2 linked regions of the Homo sapiens genome follow. The protein of the gene in region 1 purifies or fractionates together with the protein of each later gene. This does not show direct contact. Each region holds a gene or a part of one and is shown in the gene's direction. Other genes may lie near its edges.

What was found. Proteins that work in one complex are often made in the same cells at the same time.
Region 2: the proteins of D2HGDH (region 1) and POLD1 purify together in Homo sapiens (affinity purification with mass spectrometry; one large-scale study listed by BioGRID and IntAct). This does not show direct contact.

What each region holds. Positions count from the first base shown.
Region 1 is NC_000002.12:241,744,630-241,748,129, forward strand, and holds part of D2HGDH (D-2-hydroxyglutarate dehydrogenase, mitochondrial isoform 1 precursor), read left to right. Parts: intron 1-79; coding exon 80-248; intron 249-707; coding exon of another isoform or gene 708-1,126; exon of another isoform or gene 1,127-2,420; intron 2,421-3,500.
Region 2 is NC_000019.10:50,411,847-50,415,346, forward strand, and holds part of POLD1 (DNA polymerase delta catalytic subunit), read left to right. Parts: intron 1-1,579; coding exon 1,580-1,675; intron 1,676-1,895; coding exon 1,896-2,033; intron 2,034-2,968; coding exon 2,969-3,144; intron 3,145-3,500. UniProt on the Homo sapiens protein: As the catalytic component of the trimeric (Pol-delta3 complex) and tetrameric DNA polymerase delta complexes (Pol-delta4 complex), plays a crucial role in high fidelity genome replication, including in lagging strand synthesis, and repair.

The sequences.
Region 1 (3,500 bases):
GTGACACCTGGCCCCGGAGGCGACCGACGTCTTGTCAGGAGGCTGGCAGGTGGGTGAACGTGCTTCTCTTTGCCCCAAGGTGCTGGCCGACGGCACTGTCCTGGACTGCCTGACCTCCCTGAGGAAGGACAACACGGGCTATGACCTGAAGCAGCTGTTCATCGGGTCGGAGGGCACTTTGGGGATCATCACCACGGTGTCCATCTTGTGTCCACCCAAGCCCAGGGCTGTGAACGTGGCTTTCCTCGGTGGGCTTCCTCGATGTGTGCCTTGAGATGGGTGGTTGGGCTCGAGCGTCTGCTCTGATGGTGCCACTGTTGGTGTGAGGAAGGGGATGGAGGGACCCCCCGCCAAGGACAGTCGGTTCCCGTGTCTCCTGACATCTCTGCTTCCAAAGGAATCAGGAATCCAGGACCTGGCCTTCCTGGTGGTCATGGGTAAAGGTGTAGAGTGAGGCCTCTCTCTGTCTCTGGTCAGAGGACACTTCATTTCATAAGAAAACAGGCTTGTGTTGCCTCATTCACCCCATCGTGTTGGTTGAGTAGCTTGTGGAGTAAGGTTGAGGGACATGCTGTCATTTGGCATCAGTTCAGGACACCACTCTTAGTTACTGTGGGGATAAAGAATTCCCTCCTGTAATGGGGGGCTTCCCCAGTCAGCCCAGACTGGGGGTCTCAGCAGACCTGCCTGCTGCTGTGTCTCCACAGGCCTGCTTCACTCACAGCCACTTCTTCGGTTCTCCTGGGACCTGCCTGCGGCTCCTTTCTTGCTTCATTTGAATCGGGCGGGTTTATCCAGCATTTCCTCCTCAGGAGTTCAGAAGTCGCACAGCCCGGCAGTCTTCGCGCGGGAGGTGGCGGGTCTAGCTCACCAACTCCCAGTTCGGTGTCTTGAGCTGCCAGAAGCTTGGGCAGCCCTGGAGGATGCTGAGACTCCGCATGCTTGTTCCTTCAGCCACTTACATCTTCTTGTTGTGATGTGTGTTCCGTATTTTAAGCAATCTCACCAGGATTATTATTTTATGGCCACTTTCTCTGCCCTCCACTCTCTTGTGTCCGATCTTCTGTCTGGGATTATGTTGCAAACATATCCTCGTTCATTTCCTGCAGTAAAGGTCTCCTGGTGACCACTTCTTCACTTCTGGCGTGTCTGAAAATACCTTTATTTCATCCTCATTCTTGAAGGCTCTTTTCCACAGGCGCATGGCTTCAGGCTGTTGTTTGTTTTCTTTTATCCCGGTGGAAACGCTGACCCGCTGTCCTCTGGCCTCCTCGCTGTTGGGAACTTTGCTGTCGGTAGCTGCTGCTGTGAAGGGATTCTGCCTCTCTCCTGGCCCCCCTTGGGCCACTTAAAGATCATTCTTTCTGATCTTCTAAAGTTTTCAGTGTGTGGTGTGTGTGTGTACGTTCTTTTTCATCTCCTTGGAATTACTGAATTTCTTAAACCTGTGGCTTGGTATCTTTTACCAGTTCTAGAAATTCTTAGCCATTATTGCTTCAGATATTGTCTGTGTTTTCCTCTCCTTTTGGGACTGTGATTCAGGATAGAATGTCTCAGTCCGTCTTCTGTGTCTCTTAATCTCCCCTCCATATTGTCATCATCGTGTCTCTCTGTGCTGCATTCTGTGTGATTTCTTCTCATCTGTCTTCCAGTTCACGAATGCCCTCTTCTGCTGTGTTTTATTTGCTGCTGAACCCCTCCATGAGTGGTTCCCTCCGTCCATTGAGTTTTACATTTTGATTATGAAAGTTTTTATTTCTAAAAGTTTTGTTATTTTTGTCAAATCTGCAATGTTACTTTTTATAGTTTTCTATTCTAGGTATTCTCAAGCTCACCATTTGTGTCTTTAAACATAGTTTGACGTCTATAATCCCAGCACTTTGGGAGGCCAAGGCGGGTGGGTCATTTGAGGTCAGGAGTTTGAGACCAGTCTGGCCAACATGATGAAACCCTGTCTCTACTAAAAGTACAAAAATTAGGCTGGGCACAGTAGTTCACACCTGTAATCCCAGCACTTTGGGAGGCTGAGGCAGGTGGATCACGAGGTCAGGAGTTTGAGACCAGCCTGGTCAACAAGGTGAAACCCCATCTCTACTAAAAATACAAAAATTAGCCGGGCATGGTGGTGGACGCCTGTAATCCCAGCTACTTGGGAGGCTGAGGCAGGAGAATTGCTTCAGACCATAAGGCAGAGGTTACAGTGGGCTGAGATCATGCCACTGCACTCCAGCCTGGGTGACAGAGCAAGACTCCATCTCAAAAAAAAAAAAAAAAACTTTGAATAATTTTTTGTGATGTTTTATAATCAGGCAATTCCATTTTTTCAAGTCTGTGTAGTCTGTGAAAGTTTTTTTTAGAGACAAGGTCTCACTCTGTTGCCCAAGCTGAAGTGCAGTGGTGTGATCATAGCCCCTGGGTTCAAGCCATCCTCTTGAGTAGCTGGGATTACAGGTGCACACCACCATGCCTAGGTAATTAAAAAAAATTTTGTATGTAGAAACAGGGTCTCATGTAACTCCTGGGCTAAACGATCCTCCCACTGTGGCCTCCTAAAGTGCGGGGGTTATAGGTGTGAGCCTGAGCCGCTGCACCCAGCCTGTGTGGTCTGTTTTTAGTGTCTGTTGTTTCTGCTGGTTCATGCTCCTGGCTCCTTAGTTTCTTGTGTGCTTGGCTGTCTGTGGCAGTGTGCAGCTCATTATGTTTGAAGAATTATTTGTAGGGGTTCCTAGATGCCAAAGACGAGGTACCTTCCTCCAGAGAGGGTTTGCTTTTGCTTTTGCTTTTGCTAGGTGTCTTTGGGTCTGTTCAGCCTGAGAGTGACCAAGTTCACAGGATGAAATTCTGTGAAACTCCCAGGTAGCAAGTCAGTGTAGGGCTGTGTCGGGCTGATCCATGGTCATGATTTATCAGGAGAGTGTTTTTTTTTTTTTTTACATTATTCTTCTGTATTTTTTTGAGAGACAAGGTCTCACTCTGTCATCCAGGCTGGAGTGCAGTGGTGCAATCGTGGCTCACTGCAGCCTTGAACTCCTGCACTGAAGGGATCCTCCTGCCTCCCTAGTAGCTGGGACCAGGTGTGTACCACCATACCTGGCTACATTTTTAAAATTGTTTTATAGAGACAGGGTCTCCCATGATGCCCAGGCTGGTCTTGAACTCCTGAGCTCAAACAATTCTCCTGCCTTGGCCTCCCAAAGTGCTGGGGCTACAGGCATGAGCACCTGCGTCGGGCTCCATTCTGCTTTTTTCTCATTCTGTTCAGCCATTTCCCCTGCAGTCTTCGGGGCAAGTTGGTTGGGACAGGCTTGCTTCTGGCCCTGACTTCTAAGATGTGGCCCTGTGGGGGTCTCCTGGATTCCTCACTCTGGGTAGGCTGGGAAGCTTGAGGCCAAACCTGCTAGCGGGGCAAGGGCTGTCGGCCAACAGCGTTGACTTGGTGCTACTCAGCCCCCAGGTCAGGCTCTTCCCTCGCTCTTGATGCTCTTCAGCGTTTTTTTGTT
Region 2 (3,500 bases), on another chromosome or scaffold:
AAAAAAAGTAATGAATTACAGTGTTCACGCCTGTAATCCCAACACTTTGTGACACTGAGGAGGGAGGATCACTTGAGGCCAGGGGTTTAAGACCAGCCTGGGCAACATAGTGAAACCCCATCTCTACAAAAAATACAACCAAACAAAACTAGCCAGGCATTGTGGTAGCTCATGCCTGTAGTTGCAGCTACTCAGGAGGCTGAGACGGGAAGATGGCTTGAACCCAGCAGTTTGAGTTACAGTAAGCTGTGATGGCATCACTGCACTCCATTCTGGGTGACAGAGTTGAGACCCTGTCTCTTTTAGTTTTTGTTTGTTTGTTTTGAGATGGAGTCTTGCTCTGTCACCCAGGCTGGAGTGCAATGCCACAATCTTGGCTCACTGCGACCTCTCCCTCCCGGGTTCAAGTGATTCTCCTGCCTCAGCCTCCTGAGTAGCTGGGATTACAGGCACCCGCCACCATGCCTGGCTAATTTTTGCATTTTTAGTAGAGACGGGGTTTCACCATGTTGGCCAGGCTGGTCTTGAACTCCTGACCTCAGGTGATCCACCTGCCTCGGCCTCCCAAAGTGCTGGGATTACTGGTGTGAGTCACCACGCTTGGCCTCCTGTCTCTTAAAAAAAAAAAAAAATTGAATCATTTCAGGAAAAGATTACAAAGGAAAGAAAAAGGAACATAGGACAGGTGGAACAAGTAAAAGCTAGACAGTAAAGTGGTAGACGTAAGCCCAGCTATATCAGTAATTACACTAAATGTAAATGGACAAAATGCTCTAGTTAGACAGATTTCCTGACTGGATCCACACAAACAAAAACAGAAGAATCACACCCATCTCTCCTTGGTGTCCCCACCCCCAGCCTCAGGTTTGGTGGTGGTGGTGGTGGTGGTGGTGTTGTTGTTTAAGTATTTTTTAGTTTTGTGTGTGTGTGTGTGTGTATTTTTAGTAGAGATGGTGTTTCACCATGTTGTCCAGGCTGATCTCGAACTCCTGACCTCAAGTGATCCAGCCACTTCAGCCTCCCAAAGTGCTGGGTGTACAGGCATAAGCCACCACGCCAGCTAGTTTTCTTAACTCTAAAATAAGACAGTGGGTTTCTCAATGGTTTCTTAGTCAGGGTGGTGCCACCCCCTGCTCTGGGGGGCATTTGTCAATGTGTAGGTAGGGCCAGTTCTGGTGGTACAGGGATGGGGGTGGCACTGCTGGCTTCCAGGGATGGGGCTGGCTATGTCGGTGGTCCTGTACCATAGAGAGCTGCCCAGAATGTCAGTGTGAGGGAAACACTGGGCCAGTGGCCTCTTCAGGCCGCAGTCTTTCCAGCATGCATTTGATGTAGTCACTTCCTTGTGCATGTCCAGAACTCTGAGCCAGGGAACCCACTTCTTTCCACCTGACCATTGAGGAGCCGCCTTATAGTCCCATTTTGCAGATTTGGGAACTGAGGCCCAGGAGGGGCAGAGTGGCTTGTACATAAGCCTATGCCACTGGGAAATGGCAGAGGCGGGACCCCTCCCCCGCCGGCCCACGTTCACTGCACATGGCCCCCAGGGCTTCACTCCGCATGATTCTCTCCCCGACAGAGCGTCACGGGGTTCGGACGTCAGATGATCGAGAAAACCAAGCAGCTGGTGGAGTCTAAGTACACAGTGGAGAATGGCTACAGCACCAGTGCCAAGGTCGGGGGCTGCCCACCGCTGCCCTGAGATGGGCCCAGGGCAGGTGGGGGGATGGAAGCCGGGCCGGACCCCCATGTCCCCGTGCCTCCTGGTCACACCCTGCCCACTCTCCTGTTGCATCCTTGGGTCCCGTTGGCATTAGCCACCTGCCACCCCCCGACACCAGTAGTTGACAGAAGGGACCCTGCTTCTCACATACACACATCCCCACCGCCCGCAGGTGGTGTATGGTGACACTGACTCCGTCATGTGCCGATTCGGCGTGTCCTCGGTGGCTGAGGCGATGGCCCTGGGGCGGGAGGCCGCGGACTGGGTGTCAGGTCACTTCCCGTCGCCCATCCGGCTGGAGTTTGAGAAGGTGCGTGGCTGGGTCAGGGGCTCTGCATTTAGGTGCCCTCATCAGGGTACTCAGGGTGTCCCGTTCTTTGGGTTCACAAAAGCCACAGTGTGAAGGGATGTTGCTGCTTAGATTCTCCTGAGGCTGGGGCCTTGGTTTGGGAAGCCTCCAAGGCCTTGGGCTTTGTTACCCTGGATGGCATCTGTTCTTTGAAAACCCTGTCGCTGTCCCTGGTTTTGAGGTGTCACAGTGTCCCTGGTTTTGAGGTTTCCCAGTACCTGTCAGATGTGGAGCTGCCCTCCACGCAGGGACCCTGATGGGGGTGCACCTTAGATCTGTGCACCATTGCCCCTGGCCCTCTGAGTGCGGCACACTTGGTCCCAGGAAACCTTGCACCATATTTTCTTTTGAAGAGTCTGGGTCTCGCTCTGTCGCCCAGGCTGGAGTGCAGTGGCGAGTTCACAGCTCACTGCAGCCTCCAACTCCTGGGCTCCGGCGATCCTCCCGCCTTGGCCTCCTGAGCCGCCACGCCCAGTTCTCACACTGTACTGTTTCCCCGTGGCTTAACGCTCTCTCGTGCCAGGCCTTGGACTTGGAGCCTCGCAGAGTGGGGAGGTCTCTGCCTCAGGGCTCACCCAGCCGTAGTTTCTCCTCTCTTTCATGGGATGCTTCATCGACTCGCCTGTCTGGATCTCATGTTTTAGGGACTATCTGGATTTATCCCAGTCTCTGTTTCAGATTGGGGTCTCTGGTGTGGGGGCTCTGGCATTGCCGAGGGGCCTCAGGAGCCACTTCCAGCCATACAGTGTCTCGGTCCATCCCACCAGGCTCAGGGCACGGCTCCCATGTCCTCAAACTGCGTCTGGGACCCTGTCTACCTTCAGTTTCTGGGGGGCGTCTCCAGATTGGGGCTTGGCCTCCTCAGGCTCAGGGTCTTGGCCATGGCTCCCTCCCAGGTCTACTTCCCATACCTGCTTATCAGCAAGAAGCGCTACGCGGGCCTGCTCTTCTCCTCCCGGCCCGACGCCCACGACCGCATGGACTGCAAGGGCCTGGAGGCCGTGCGCAGGGACAACTGCCCCCTCGTGGCCAACCTGGTCACTGCCTCACTGCGCCGCCTGCTCATCGACCGGTGTGTGGGGCCTCCTCCCTCAGACTCAGGGGGCTGGGCCCCAAACCCCTCCTCCCTCAGACCCAGGAGTCTAGGCCCCAGCCCCTCCTCCCTCAGACCCACGGGTCCAGGCCCCCAGCCCCCTCCTCCTCAGATCCCGGGGTCAGGGCCCCCAGCCCCTTCCTCTCTTAGATACAAGAGTCCAGACCCCCAGCCCCTCCTCCTCTGGGAACACAGGTGTCAGGCCCAGCTCTTCCTCGGTGGTGAAGCAGTGGAAAGAGTCGGCTTGGGCAGCTGTGGGTTCAGGCCCTGCCTCTGCCACTCTGCAGCCTATGGTAGGAAGGGCCCCTCTCTGCCCTGAGCCTCAGCCCTAAGAG